4 linked regions of the Homo sapiens genome follow. The protein of the gene in region 1 purifies or fractionates together with the protein of each later gene. This does not show direct contact. Each region holds a gene or a part of one and is shown on either strand. Other genes may lie near its edges.

Region 1 (3,559 bases):
GAATATTAAAAACACATGTACCCAAGGGTCAGGATTTAATAAAAGTAATAAATGTTACTGCTTTAAGGACATTCTTAAGTGAAGATAGTGTGTGTGTGTGTGTGTGTGTGTGTGTGTGCATGTGTGCTTATGTGTTTAGGTGCAAGTGTGTAATGATGAAGAATACATGACTCTTAGTGTTATGTGGTATGACTGCTTTTATTCAAATTAAAGTACCAGCAGTTTTATTTTGTACCTTCAGTGCAAATGTCAACATGAACACTCTGAAATAGACTAAGCGGATCCATATTTTGAGAAGCCTTATTCTAGAAGATTGCAAAGTTGTTCCTTTCTAATCCTGTTGAAGATTTTAATTTTCATGCTTTGCTCCTCACTGGAATGTTTGCATTTTAAAGGGGACAGGTTTATAAATCTTTGTCTTGGGATGAAATTTAAAGAATCATATCCATTAATAAAAAATGAGTTTTCCATTGTCCCCCAAATTATACTGGTAAGAACCAGCTCCACTGCCTTAGGAAGCAACAAAATGTAAAGTGTTTACACCCTCTTCACCCATCCCAAATCTGCTCATCATAACAGTGCCAAATCTTGGTCTAACCTTCCCCAAATGTCCATGAAATGCAAATGATAGAGTTGCATAAAAATAAAATAATTAAAAATAAATAAACGGATTTTTGACAAAGGTGCCAGGAACACACATTGGGGAAAGGAGAATATCTTTAATAAATGGTGCTGAAAAAACATAATACCCACATGCAGAAGAATAAAACTATCTTTCACCATGTACAAAAATCAGCTCAAAATGAATGAAAGACTTAAACATAAGACTCAAAACTATAAAACTAATAGAATAAAGTTTAGGGGAAAAGCTTTATGACATTGATGTGGGCAAGTTTTTTTGGATAAGAACTCAAAAGCACAGGCAACAAAAGCAAAAATAAACAAATGGGATTACATCAAACTGAAAAGCTCCTGCATAGCAAAGGAAACAACAGAGCGAGGAGACAACCTACAGAACTGAAGAAAATATTTGCAAATTATGAGTCCAATAAGGGGTTAATATCCAGAATATGTAAAGAACTCAAATAACTTAATAGCAAAAGAACATTTTTTTTAATGGTCAGAAGACTTGAATAGACATTTTTCAAAAGAATACATAAAAATGGCCAGCAGGTATATGATAAAATGCTCAACATCGCTAATCATCAGGGAAATACAAATCAAATGCACAGTGAAATGTCACCTCACCCTAGTTAGAATGGCTGTTATCAAAAAGACAGAAAATAACAAATGCTGGTCAGGATGCAGAGAAAGGGGAACTCTAATACACTGTTGGTGGGAGTGTAAATTAGTGCAGTCATTATGAAAACAGCATGAAAATTCCTCAGAAAACTAAAAATAGAACTAACATATGATCTAGCAATCTCACTACTAGGTACATATTCAAAGGAACTGAAATTAGTATATCAAAGAGATATCTGCACCCTCATGTTTATTGCAGCACCATTCAAAACAACCAAAATATGGAATCCACCTAAATGTCCATAAACTGATGATATACACAATGAAATACTACTCAGCTGTGAAAAGAATGAAATCCTATCATCTGCAGCAACATGGATGAACCTGGAGGACGTAATGTTAAGTGAAATAAGCCAGGCATAGAAAGACAAATACCACATAACCTCACTCATATGTAGGTCTAAAAAAGTTGATCTCATGGAATTAGAGACTAGAACAGTGGTTACCAGAGGCTAGGAAGGGTAGTGGGAAAGGGAGATGGGGAGAGCTTGGTTGACAGATACAAAGTTATAGTTAGGAAGAATAAGTTATGTGCTCTATTACATAGTAGGGTAACTGTGGCTAATAATAATGTACTGTAGATTTTAAGTAACTAGAAAAAAGCATCTTGAAAGTTATCACCACAAAGAAATGATAGATGTTTGAGGTGATGTATATGCTAACTACCCTGATTTGATCATTATTCGGTGTATGCATGTATTGAAACATCACACCAATACACTGTTGTGCCGGATATGTCAATTATAAACAAAATTTTTAAAATTAAAATTATAAATACATGAATAAATAAAAATCCATGCCACATTTGAGGCATAAATCCCACCATCTAACTGTAGAGACTGAGAGAGGAGCATGTGTCAAATGTTACTAGGGAAACAAAGAAAAGCGGGTGACTAATAATTCATGGTTCCAACAAAGTCTTCAAAATTCCCGCTGTGTAGCTTTATTTATCTAAGCAGGTAAGTTCATAATAATATATTGTCAGTTATTTCCTTTGTGCAGCAAATGCTAAGCTTTAATTAAAGTACAGAGTATTTGTCAAAAGTATTTTCTATCCCAAACCCCACTGCAGGGTAAAGAACAGTTGCCTAATCTCATCTCTAATTGGCTGGATGGAAACTAGAATCCTCTCACTGGTTAGTTGATAATTACATTGATGAATCATAAAATCAGATTACTAAAAGCAAATAAACAAACAAAAAACCTTAGGGTCATCAAACCCAGCCCCCTTGCTTTGGGATAGGGCATGTCTAGACTTCATTAACTAATAATTTCTAATCTATTATTTTTCTACATTGCTAGGGGAAAAAGACATTATTACAATTTCCATAGTTTCTTATAATGGTCGAAGCCCCTCACGGAAAGGAAAGGCCAACTTAGCATAGAGGTGGGCCCCACTTTAATTAAATATAATAAATAAAAATTGGTAGTCTGTTGTCTGGCCCAGTCAGACACTGGGTCTGGATGGGAACTAGTATCCTCTAGTTTCCTTATGTTTCTCATAAAACAGAAAGGGTAAGTGGTTTACCTAAAGCAATAAAGCCAGTTGATAATAGAACCAGAACAAAAAGCTAGTGTCCTGGCCCTCCTTCTATGCTATTAACAGCAACTATGATGGTGGTGACAATAGTCACAACTTGGACCCAGAGAGATTAAGAAAGTAGTGTGGATGAAGTCACACAGTTAGTAAATGACAGAGTTGTGCTTAAAACCCAGGCCAATATCATACTGCTGTTTCTATAGCACTGTTTTCCTTCGAGTAGATAAGGTTAAATGTTAAGTGTATTTCATTGCATTCTAATTTTTTTGTGGTGTTTAGTATCCTTTAACACAAATATTTTTATTACCCAGAACATTCCACTTTTTACATTTTCTACACAAAACATGGATTAATTGTATATTCAAAACATAGCATAACATTTACACCGCAGCAAAATGTTCCTGGATTAAGCCAGTTTTAACCTGCCCATTTGCAGGAGAAGAAATTGAGATGCCTCAAAAAGCCAAGTCCATACAGAGAGTACATGGGAGGAATCACAGATAAAGGCCTAAGTCCAGCTCCTGTGGCTGCTAAATAAATCATAATACAGAATAGTGAATGACCTAGAAAAAGGAATGATACTGTCTAAGGAAGCTTTTTATGAGCAAATAATAAAAAATAATGGCTAACATTTAATGAATTTTTAGTATGTGATAGGCATTCCAAGCATCTTACAAGGATTAGTTAATATTATATTCAAAACACCATATAAGGGGG
Region 2 (3,559 bases), on another chromosome or scaffold:
TTAATCATTTAGTAAAGTCTACCTGCATCCTAGAAAAAATAATTTGCCAAGCTCCTACTCCTAATTTCTAGATGTAACTAGGTCTAAAATCTGCATTTTATTCCAGAAAGGACAGATACAAGTAGTCAAAGCAAAAGAGCCCAGTGCCTTATTGTAAATTTTATGTAATATGTAATACAAGCAAGACTCAAAACTATTAATCAAAAATAGCGTGGTACTGTGCAAAGAAACCTGGATCGAGAATCTAGAATTCCAGATTTGAGATCTAGTCATACTATCTGGCTGCTCAGAGACCTTGGGCAATTAATTTCCTTGGGAAATTAATTCTGAGTTTCAATTTCTACTTGTATAAAAAGTATCCTGGGTTTAATTTCTAGGGTTGCTTTGAAATCTAAGAATTCATGATTTTAGATTACAGATAATGGACATAAGTATTCTGTTATTTTTCTAGACTGTTAAGTTTTCAATGGATGGAGGCAGGACGATTCTGATGGGCTGTTCCCCTCCAGTGCTTTCCCTGTAGTCTGCTCAGGCTGTTGGACCTGCATTGCAACTCAACTTCTCCCTCTGCCCAGGGAGAGGGAGGTATTCCTTTTACAGATATTGGCCCAGAAAGTGCTCCCTAACAAACATCCTGAATGCTCAACTTTATCTTCGAGTCTGCTTCTGGGAGAAATCAATCCCCAGCATTAATGTTTTATCTCAGCAGGAAAAAACCTTGCAAAGCGATCTAGAAGTTTTAAAACTTCACACTCATAACTGGCTCTTTTTTTTAAAATTTAATTTTATTTTTTGAGATGGAGTCTCACTCTGTCGCCCAGGCTGGAGTGCAGTGGCGCGGTATCGGCTCACTGCAAACTCCGCCTCCTGGGTTCACGCCATTCTCCTGCCTCAGCCTCCTGAGTATCTGGGACTACAGGTGCCTGCCACCATGCCTGTATGGTGTATTTTTTGTATTTTTAGTAGAGACGAGGTTTCACTGTGGTCTCGATCTCCTGACCTCGTCATCCGCCCACCTCGGCCTCCCAAAGTGCTGGGATTACAGGCTTGAGCCACCGCGCCCGGCCGGCTCTTTCTAAATACTCTTATCTCCAGCTTCTTACCTGTTTCATCAAACATTTACTTTTGGAATACTGTTGTGGTAGACTGTGTAGGTTGGCTAGCCAACAGTCTTTCCCAATCCCTCTATCTCTTGGCCATCTCACACTCTAACGACTAGAAAACCAAAGACTTGCTTTCCCAGCTTCCTTTGCAGCTGGGGGTCACCATGGGATGTTCTGGTCCATAAGACATAAGCAGAGCCTGCTAAGGGGGTTCCAGAAAAACCTTTTACTTTGCTAATAAAGAGCAACACATGTGGTAGTGTACCATTCCTCTTTCCCTTTTCTTTCTGCCTGGAGTTGGGATGCGATAAAGCTGCAGCAACCACCTTGTGGCCACAAGGAAAAGCTAAGAATATTACAACAACGTTATCCCTGACATCACTATGCCACTGAATTTACTTACCTCTAGACTTATGTAAGAAAAATAAATCCCTATTTGTTTTAGCTATAATAAATAGGTTTCTAAAAATACTGCCTAATTAATATACTGTCATTTTCCAATAAACTTAAGAGGTTTTTCATTTTTAAAATTTTGTGGTTGTCACAATGGCTATGGGGTGCCACTAGCACTTACTATCTGGAGCCAGAGATGCTACATACCCTGCAATGCATGGGGCAGTCACACCCAAAATGGCAGTGGCACATACCATGGGAAACCCTAGAACAGAGCATTCAGGCCATTTCCAATGGCCATATTAACTGAGCTATTATTATAGGTAATATCATTTTTTCTATAGCCTGACATTGTGAAAGGAGACCCAGGATTTATAAAAGATGATCTCTGTCCTCTAGGATCTAACAATCTAATAGTGGAGAAAAGATTGCTAGATAAATAACTACAAACAAGTACAGCTTTATAGAGGTCAGAGATGACTGTAATTAAGATTGACAGAGTTAATTTCAGGTTAGGATTCATGGAAGTGATGTCAAAGCTGGGTTCTTAAGAATGGGTAAGGTGTGTCAGGCAGAGGGAAGCATATTATCTTAGATGTGAACTAGGAAAGTATAAGGTATGTTCAGAGAACAGCATATTGATGATTAAAGTAGACCATGGTTGGTGTATGACACAGTAAAGGGAGGAAAGATGGCCAAAGTCAGTAACTTGGGACAACATTTCCATTTAAGGAGTAGGACGAAGAAGGAGAGAGAGCCAGGCCAACAAAAGGAACAGAGAGCAAACTAAGAGAAGAACCTAAACAGTAGTGCATCTTATGGCCAAGGCATAAGAGGATATGAAAATATCAGGCCAGGCTGGGTGCAGTGGCTCATGCCTGTAATCCCAGCACTTTGGGAGGCCGAGGTGGGCAGATCACCTGAGGTCAGGAGTTCAAGACCAGCCTGGCCAACATGGAGAAACCCTGTCTCTACTAAAAGTACAAAAATTAGCCGGGCATGGTGGCGGGCACCTGTAATCCCAGCTACTCAGGAGGCTGAGGCAGGAGAATAGCTTGAACCAGGGAGGTGGAGGTTGCATGAGCCGAGATTGCACCACTGCACTCCAGCCTGGGCGATAAGAGCGAGACTCCATCTCAAAAAAATAAATAAATAAAATAAAAAATAAAAAAAAATAAATTAGAAAATATCAGGCCAGATATGATGGCTCATGCCTGTAATCCCAGCACTTTGAGAGACTGAGGCGGGTGGATCGCTTGAGCCTAAGTGCTCAAGACCAGCCTGGACAACATGGTGAAACTCTGTCTCCACAAAATTACAAAAATTAGCCAGGCATGATGGCGTGTGCCTGTGGTCCCAGCTCCTCTAGAGGCTGAGGTGGGAGGATAGCTTGAGCCTGGGAGGTGGAGGTTGTGTGAGCTGTGACTGTACCACTGCACTCTAGCCTGGGTGACAGAGCAAGACCCTGCCTCAAAAAAAAAAAAAAAAGTCATCTGTTTAGTGGCACTAAATGCCTTACAGAAGTTAAGCCAAATTAAAAAGAACCAGAGAAAGAAATATTGAAGATGTTGGTGCTGGTTCCAGAACCTGGCAAAAGCACAAGTTGAAAAATTAGGCAAATAGGTGGAAAGAGGTTTACCACGGATGCTTTAATTGAACTAATACCTTTTAAGTACTTCCATGTGAGCCCATTTGATGGTGGTGGAGAGAAAGGTTCCAGACAAAAGGAAAGATAAATAGGAAAGGTTCTGTCATATATGTCACTGGGAAATCATCACAAGCCAGAGAACTTTATTAATTAAAACTTATCTTTCACTGAAGTGTTTAATTAAGTAATTTTAAAAGCCTACTTTCTGCCTCATTTCTCCCAAACTAGACTATAGAACTTGAAGACATACAGAAGGAACAGTGGCTACTCAGTAAACAAGGACCCAGGGATTGGAGGCAACTGTGATTTTATAAGACTAAAATTTAATTATTAGGGAGATTAAAACACATTTATTTTACTTATTTTTCCCGCCTGTCAATATTTAGTGTATAAGACAAGTTTGATCCATATTCAA
Region 3 (3,559 bases), on another chromosome or scaffold:
CTTTTATAGTACAAGGCTTTCATCTTACTTAACTCTCAGATATGTAACCTAAACAAACAAAACAAAACAAAACATACAAAACAAAAAAAAAACAAACAAAACACAACATTTTTGCCCAGATAGAAAAAGAAGAAAAGTTCAAATAATAATAAAAATACACCCACAAACATACATACCTAATTTCAAAGGGGATTTTAAATTCTTTGCTATAGGTCCAGTTATCCAAAGAGACCCATCTGTAGTTAAGGTCATTAAATCTGTAGTAAGAATCCTGTTGATACAAGGTAAAAATTATGGTAGATGGTTAAATATGCACAAATAAATTAATAAAACAAACATAAAATAAATTATTAACAACAGCTATTTATCACCTAAAAATTAACGAACTTTTAGCCTAGTAGTACAAAGAGGGGACAGATCGTTAATACTGAAAAATGTGAAGGGAAAATTCCAACAAATTACCTGAAATGAAATAATCCTCTGAGATATAAATAATACAGCTTCATTATCAAAGAAAATTGGTGGGCATTAAGATTGGCTTCCCCTTGGAGACAGGGTTTCACCATGTTGGCCAAGCTGGTCTCAAACTCCTGACCTCAAGTGATCCACCTACCTCAGCCTCCCAAAGTGCTAGGATTACAGGCATGAGCCATCATGTCCGGCCTACAGTTTATCTTGTGTACTAACCTGTTTCACTCTCTAAATGAGCAAAGTGGGAGATCACTGTCACGGCTGAAGTTACATGGCCAAGACAAACTATGGTCTGGGAGTCCCAGGTTCTCCTGTGTGGGCACTTTCCTGGAAGATGCTAAATGATAGGAAAATCTGGGTTTCATGTTTCTGTGTGGTCCTCACCTCACTTGACTTCTGCTCTTTCTGTTTGCTCTGGGCTTCCGTGCTCTCATTGATATAGTTCTCAGTTTTCCATTGGTCTGTATCCCATTCTGCCTTGGACATCTTTACTTCTTGCTGCTCACTGATGAATCAGGAGGCCTGTCCTGGAGATGAGCTTGGTATAGGCCAATTGCACATGGGTCTCAGAGCACTCCATCTTCAAGGTCCAGATAACATGAGAAATGAGTCTTCTCACATCATTATTGGGGATGAGGGGCCGTAGCTGCTGGTTTAGCTGAATTTCAAACTGATCACCTGGGGACGAGAGCAATGGGTAATTGAAGCTTTTGGGCTCGGGAGACAGGCCAGTGCCCATGTTGTTGTATTCCCATTGTGTTTCACAGTCTTCTCTAAGTTGAACGCAGTCTCAGCAGAATCTCCCTCAGGAGGATGGTTGTAGGTTGTGTTTTCAGAGATGGTGCCTTCTGGCATAGTAGTGTTTTCCATAAAAATGTTTTGTTCAAAGGCATTTCTTGCAGTGGTGCTTTTAAAACATTCTGATGGAGAAATACTTCCGGAAAAGGATTTTCCTGAAGACTCAGGTCTCCTAAAGATGAAAAAGCCCCTTGTGAAGGGGCATTTATGAGGCTTTTCACTGCAGAGAATGGAGGCCTCTTTGCAAGCAAAGTCTACTGAGAGAACTTTTCTGGAATGTACGATTGGTTTTAACTCAACTTTGCATTTTCTAAAACCAAAATGGGTAAGTCTTTCAATCTGTTTCTGACCACAGGTAGGGCTTTTGCAGGGGTGGAGATAGAAGGCACGCCCATGGAGAAGGGTTTCAGCAAAGAGAAGACTGCTGCCTTATGCTCTTGGTTGAACGAAGGCTTGGTATAGATGGCGTTTCCTGCTAACTTCTCATGCCCCTGCTCTATGTGAGGCTGTTCCAGCTCCCTTGGGGCTGGACTCCTGAGCCTTTTTTCTTTGGCAGCATTCTCCACAAATGCCCAGGCACCCTGTTCCTTCCTGTTGCTCTGCTTTCCCACCTCTTTGAAGTGACTTTTCTGGATGCTCCTTGGGCCCATGAGGATTCTGTTCACTCTCTGCAGGCTTTTGCCTACACTTTGAATCTTAGCCAGGCTGTTTTCCTGTGGTTGGACAGTTTCTAATTTCATGAGTTTTTGGATGCAGATTGAAGAGAGGGACTCTTTGTATGGTTTTTCGGAATACCCATCTTTCACATTTGAAAAAAACAGGTAACTATAAGGTTAGCTGTTGGCAGAGCTAGCAGAGGTTTTATTTTGGACCAAAAAAAAAAAGCAATTGAATTGTTTTGTAGCTGAAGGCATAGGCATGGGGGGTCCCCAGGTAGTAAACTACCCTGTGGGTGGGTTGAGGGCTAGGGCTGGGCCTCAGGTGGGTCTCACGTTCCCTGTGCTCCCTTCTGCTCTCTGGGAGAGTCGCAGGAGGGGCAGGCTGGGAGGGGCTGCCGCAGCTGTTCACTTGGGCAGGACGTCAGAGGACTAGGACACCAGCCTCCCATCATGGGTCTCGATCTTCTTCACAACCACTGCCCTGGTGGTGCTGGTGCGGCTGAAGGAGCTGGAGCCCACACCAGAGCCAAAGCTGGGGCTTGGGAGGCCCCCACAGGCCGAGCTCAGATCACCTGCATAACCACTGGTGGTCTTTGTATGGATACTCATGTTCTGCATCCCAGAGTCCAGCTGGCTCTCCTCGCCCTCCAGCAGCTTCCTGTAGGTGGCTATCTCGATGTCCAGGGCCAGCTTGATGTTCATCAGTTCCTGGTACTCAAGCAGTTGCCATGCCATGTCCTGCTTGGCCTGCTGCAGGGCGGCCTCCAGCTTGGACAGCTTGGCGTTGGCATCCTTAACAGCCAGCCCCCTGTGCTGCAGACATCTGTGATGGTGCCCTCCAGGGAAGCCCTCTGGCCTTTGAGGCCCTCAGTCTCAGCCTGGAGCTGGCTGATGTTCCGGTTCATCTCAGAAATCTCAGTCTTTGTACACTGCAGGTCATCCTCGTGCTTCCCAGCCAGCATCTGCAGCTCCTCATCCTTGATCTGGTACATGCTCTCAGCCTTGGCCTGGCTGCAGTTGGCGATCTCCTCGTATGGTGCCTTGACCTCAGCGATGATGCTGTTCATGCCCAGGGAGCGGCTGTTGTCCATGGGCAGCACCACAGATGTGTCCGAGATCTGGGACTGCAGCTCCTGGATCTCCTCTTCATACAGCTGCTTGAGGAAATTGATCTCGTCAGTCAGCCCTTCCAGGTGAGACTCCAGCTCTACCTTGTTCATGTAACCTTCATCCACATCCTCTTGATGAGGACAAATTCATTCTCCACCTCTGTACACTTATTGATCTCATCCTCATACTTGTTCTTGAAGTCCTCCACCAGCCCGGGCATGTTGCCAAGCTCCGCCTCCAGCTTCAGCTTCTCCTGGCCCAGAGTCTTCAGCTGCTGCCTAAGGTTGTTGATGTAGCTCTGGAACATGTTGTCCATGTTGCTCTGAGCCATCTTCTGCTGCTGCAGGAGGCTCCACTTAGTCTCCAGCATCTTGTTCTACTGCTCCAGGAACCATACCTTGTCTATGAAGGAGGCAAACTTGTTGTTGAGGGTCTTGATCTGCTGCTTCTCCTGGGTGCGCACAGCCTGGATGTTGGGGTCCACCTCCAGGTTAAGGGGGCTCAGCAGGCTCTGGTTGACT
Region 4 (3,559 bases), on another chromosome or scaffold:
GGGGAGATGAGGCAGGGCCGTCTGCTGGGGTCACCTGGCTTGCACTTGAACTCGTAGTCCTCCCACATGGCATCGGGGGCGCTGGCGTTGGAGCTGGCTGTGCCCTGCAGGATCACCTCCGCCCGCTCCTTGGTGATGCTGCCGGGAGACCGAGGCAGGCCAGGCCCACGTCACACACCGGCTGGGCCGAGTGGGGTGCATGGGTGGGGGGGGTTCCCCGACTGTCCATCCTGGCCCAGGGGGAGGGCTACAGCCTCCACCTGCCTCCTGGTCAGGGGCTACTGAGAGGCTGGGTGGGGCTGAGGAGAACTTTTGGGAACTGTGGCCCCAGGGTCTCATTCGAGAACACCTTCTCTGCCCGTGAAGACCCAGCTGCAGCCGCCATGTGCCCCATGCCCCTCGGCAGCTCAGGGTGGACATGAGGGGGACAGAGGCCAAGGGGCTGGCCCCAGGACAGGGAGGGTGCCTGTGTTCAGGTGGCACTACCTGGCATTCCCACGCAGGGGGTTGGGGCCTGGTGGCCTCTCCCTTACGCCCCCAGTAGGCATTCCAGGGCCGCAGCCCACCTGCCTGGTGACCTCGGGCCCTGCCCCTTTGCCTCATGGGACCAGGACGAGGAGGCCTGCGTGTCCAGGCCCGGTAGTGGGGACAGCACGGCCTGTGCCTGGGTCAGGCTGGGGTGGGGCAGGGGACACTTGGGGTCATGGGGGCCTGCACTGTAACCCCACCTGAATGTGGCTGGTCAGGGCTGAGTCTCCCCATATACCCAGCTCCGGGGGACGGGGACCCCAGGCTCATACCTTCCGAAGGCCCCGTAAGTGTTGACGATGTGAAGAGAGTTGAAGTGGGTGTTCATGACCTGCCTGGAGCTCAGCAAGTTGAGGACCACGGGCACGCTGAGCCAGGCCAGCAGGACGCCCAGCGAGACGTTGGCTGCACGCCGCACCACGGAGCCTGGCAGGGGAGTGACATCTTCCAGGTGGGGCTCCCAGCTGCCCCGTGGCCTGTCCCTGGGGAGACCCCAGCTGCTGCTCCCTAAGGGTCAGCTGTCCTGGGTCCCGGGGACGGAGCAGCACCCGAACTCACACACCTTGTTCCTGGCACGCTACACTGCGGACGGCGCTGACTCTCCTCCTACCCTGGCGTCCCCAACCCACACGGGCAGGCTGTGGGGCTGGCACCACCCGACTTTCTCCTGCCCTTGGGCAGGGGCCCCCAGCTGAGCCACCTACCGAATCTGGGCTCGGGCCGGGCCCCTCGGATGTCCCTCTGCATCTGCAGAACTCGGTCCTTCAGGCTGCCTGGCCCAGAGGGGAACAAGAATCCCAGGGTGGCGTCATCAAAGCAGGCCAGGCTGGGCACCATAGTCAGCCAGTTCAGGAAGCTGAGGTTCCCGCTGACGATGAGGACGGCCTGTGGAGACGCCGCAGCTGAGTCTCGTGCAGGGGCTCGTGTGGGGCCCCTGGGCAGCTGGCGCCTCTCTTCCTGGAGCAGGGAGGGGGGAGGGAACCTGCACCCAGCTCTGCCCTTGCTGTCCCTCGGGCCCAGCATCACAACTGAAACCCAGCTGTGCCTTCATGGAGGGGACAGCAGATGCCTCAGAGGTGCCTTCCGGCAGGTGCTTCCAGAACATTCCTCCCATGACTGCACATTTCTGTGCAGGTTCTGTCCCTTGCTTTAGTGATCCGCAAGGCGGGGGCTGGACCAGACCACCAGACCCTGTGCCCTCCTGGAACTCCTCACTTTCAGAGGGCACCTGCCGGGGTCATGCCCGGGGAAGGCTGGTGAGTCCAAACAGAGGAGGCTGTGCTTGGAGAGTGGGTACTGGGGACGCCCCTCAGCCGATGGGTGACACAGACAACAGGGGCCGTGGGGGGGCCACCAGTAACGCCCCCACTCCAAAATACGAAATGCAAGGAAGTGAGACACAGGCACAGGACCCTGTGCCACAGAGATGAACAGCAGGAGAGGGGAGGGGCTGCATGCAGGGCTGGCTGAGCAGCACGGCTGGGAGAGCTCCAAGGAAAGACTCAGCAGCAGCAGTGAGTAAACCTGCGGCAGGAGGGACTCAGAGGGACCCGCTTCTGGACATCCCCGCAGGCCAGCGATCGTTAGGTGACGAAACTGGAGATGGAGCCGCTGTCCCTGCAGCTCCGTCGGGTGATATCACAGGTGTGCTGCCAGACCTCACCCCTGCCGTTGCCGTGGAGGCATCAGGGAGACAGGGGCAGCTTGCGTGGCCGGTCGCCCTGCATGGGTGATGGTCTGCAGCTGAGCCGGTGGACCCTGGGCCGGCAGGACCTGGGTGTGGCTTCCTCAGACAGCTCCGTCAGCCAGATTTGATGCATCAAAGCCCAGCCTTTATCCCCGTAACTCAGGAGGAAGGTTGAGGGCAGGGACATCGACGTCTAATGAAGGGACTCGTGAGGGCAGCCACATCAGTGTTATGGGCGATGATGGTGTTTTATGAACTGTGCACTCATGGCTCTCCCTGGGTGAATTGGGAAAAATAGCTTTTCTGGTTCTGAGCCCCAAAACAGTTATTTCTTATTCTCCACTGTCTACAAGGTTACTAAACCCCTGTGCCAAAAACAGCCCCGCCTCGCCCTGGCTGGGGTTAGCCACCTCTGCCACCAGCTCCCCTCCGCTGGTCCAGACCCCCATGCCCTCCGTCCTGAGTGTGACCAGGGCTGGTCTGGGGTGGGGTGGCTGGGAGCCCCTGAGCTCCCGTGACAGGGAGGGTGCAGGGCTAGGCACTGAGGTCTGACCTTTGGGCCCACTCTTGGGGATGCTCTGGAGGAGATGCCACAGGTGACACTGGAATGTCCTGGTGGGAAAAGCTCGGGTCTTTCTGGCCCTTCGCTGTGGTCAGCCTGACTGGCAGATGGGACCAAAGCGACCTGGGGCACAGCCTGAGCCAGTGCCCGTTCGGATGCTCGGCCATGCCAGAACCATCAGGAGCTTTGAGGAACACCCAGCCCTGAGCACCTGCCTGCCTGGGTCAGGGTGGGCCCTGCCTGAGTGTATTTCCAAAGCCCCCTTGGGTCATCCTGCTGTGGGCTCAGTGGGGAACTCTAGCCTCAGGGAACTAGGGCTCCAGAGAGCACAGATCTGGGCATCAGATCCTGTTTCTAAGAAAGCTTCGGGGCTCGGGGCCCTGCTCCATGCAGAGGCATCCCCAGCTGCGCCCCGTTCAGCTGCTCTGGTGCATCTCTCGCCCTCCATCTGGTCGGCTGTTTTGTTATGAAAACGCAGTTCCGCGTAGAGTGCACGGCCTGAGCGCTCCTGGGGGACCTCGCCTTCCTTGTTTTTCTTCTAGCATCACTGAGCCATCTCCTCAGAGGGAAATCAGTCTTCTCACTGCCCATCTGTGCTCGCCCCCGCCGGCGGAGTCCTCACAAGGCTGTGCGGCCCACAGATGACCCGGCCGGTGGCTGGGAGCGGAGGCGAGGCCCGAGGGGGTCCCCAAGGCCGGCACAGGAAGAGGAGCTTGAGGTGATGGAATCCTGGGCCCAAGAGACGGAGCAGCAGGTGTTCCGAGGCCAACGGCGCATGGCCC

The links. Proteins that work in one complex are often made in the same cells at the same time.
Region 2: the proteins of BRINP2 (region 1) and GALNT1 purify together in Homo sapiens (affinity purification with mass spectrometry; one large-scale study listed by BioGRID and IntAct). This does not show direct contact.
Region 3: the proteins of BRINP2 (region 1) and MANBA purify together in Homo sapiens (affinity purification with mass spectrometry; one large-scale study listed by BioGRID and IntAct). This does not show direct contact.
Region 4: the proteins of BRINP2 (region 1) and LMF1 purify together in Homo sapiens (affinity purification with mass spectrometry; one large-scale study listed by BioGRID and IntAct). This does not show direct contact.

Annotation. Positions count from the first base shown.
Region 1 is NC_000001.11:177,250,938-177,254,496, reverse strand, and holds part of BRINP2 (BMP/retinoic acid-inducible neural-specific protein 2 precursor), read right to left. Parts: intron 1-3,559. UniProt on the Homo sapiens protein: Inhibits neuronal cell proliferation by negative regulation of the cell cycle transition.
Region 2 is NC_000018.10:35,703,737-35,707,295, reverse strand, and holds part of GALNT1 (polypeptide N-acetylgalactosaminyltransferase 1), read right to left. Parts: intron 1-3,559. UniProt on the Homo sapiens protein: Catalyzes the initial reaction in O-linked oligosaccharide biosynthesis, the transfer of an N-acetyl-D-galactosamine residue to a serine or threonine residue on the protein receptor.
Region 3 is NC_000004.12:102,726,413-102,729,971, forward strand, and holds part of MANBA (beta-mannosidase precursor), read right to left. Parts: exon of another isoform or gene 958-3,559; coding exon of another isoform or gene 856-957; intron 272-855; coding exon 177-271; intron 1-176.
Region 4 is NC_000016.10:869,929-873,487, forward strand, and holds part of LMF1 (lipase maturation factor 1), read right to left. Parts: intron 1,414-3,559; coding exon 1,233-1,413; intron 955-1,232; coding exon 801-954; intron 139-800; coding exon 1-138. UniProt on the Homo sapiens protein: Involved in the maturation of specific proteins in the endoplasmic reticulum. Required for maturation and transport of active lipoprotein lipase (LPL) through the secretory pathway. Each LMF1 molecule chaperones 50 or more molecules of LPL.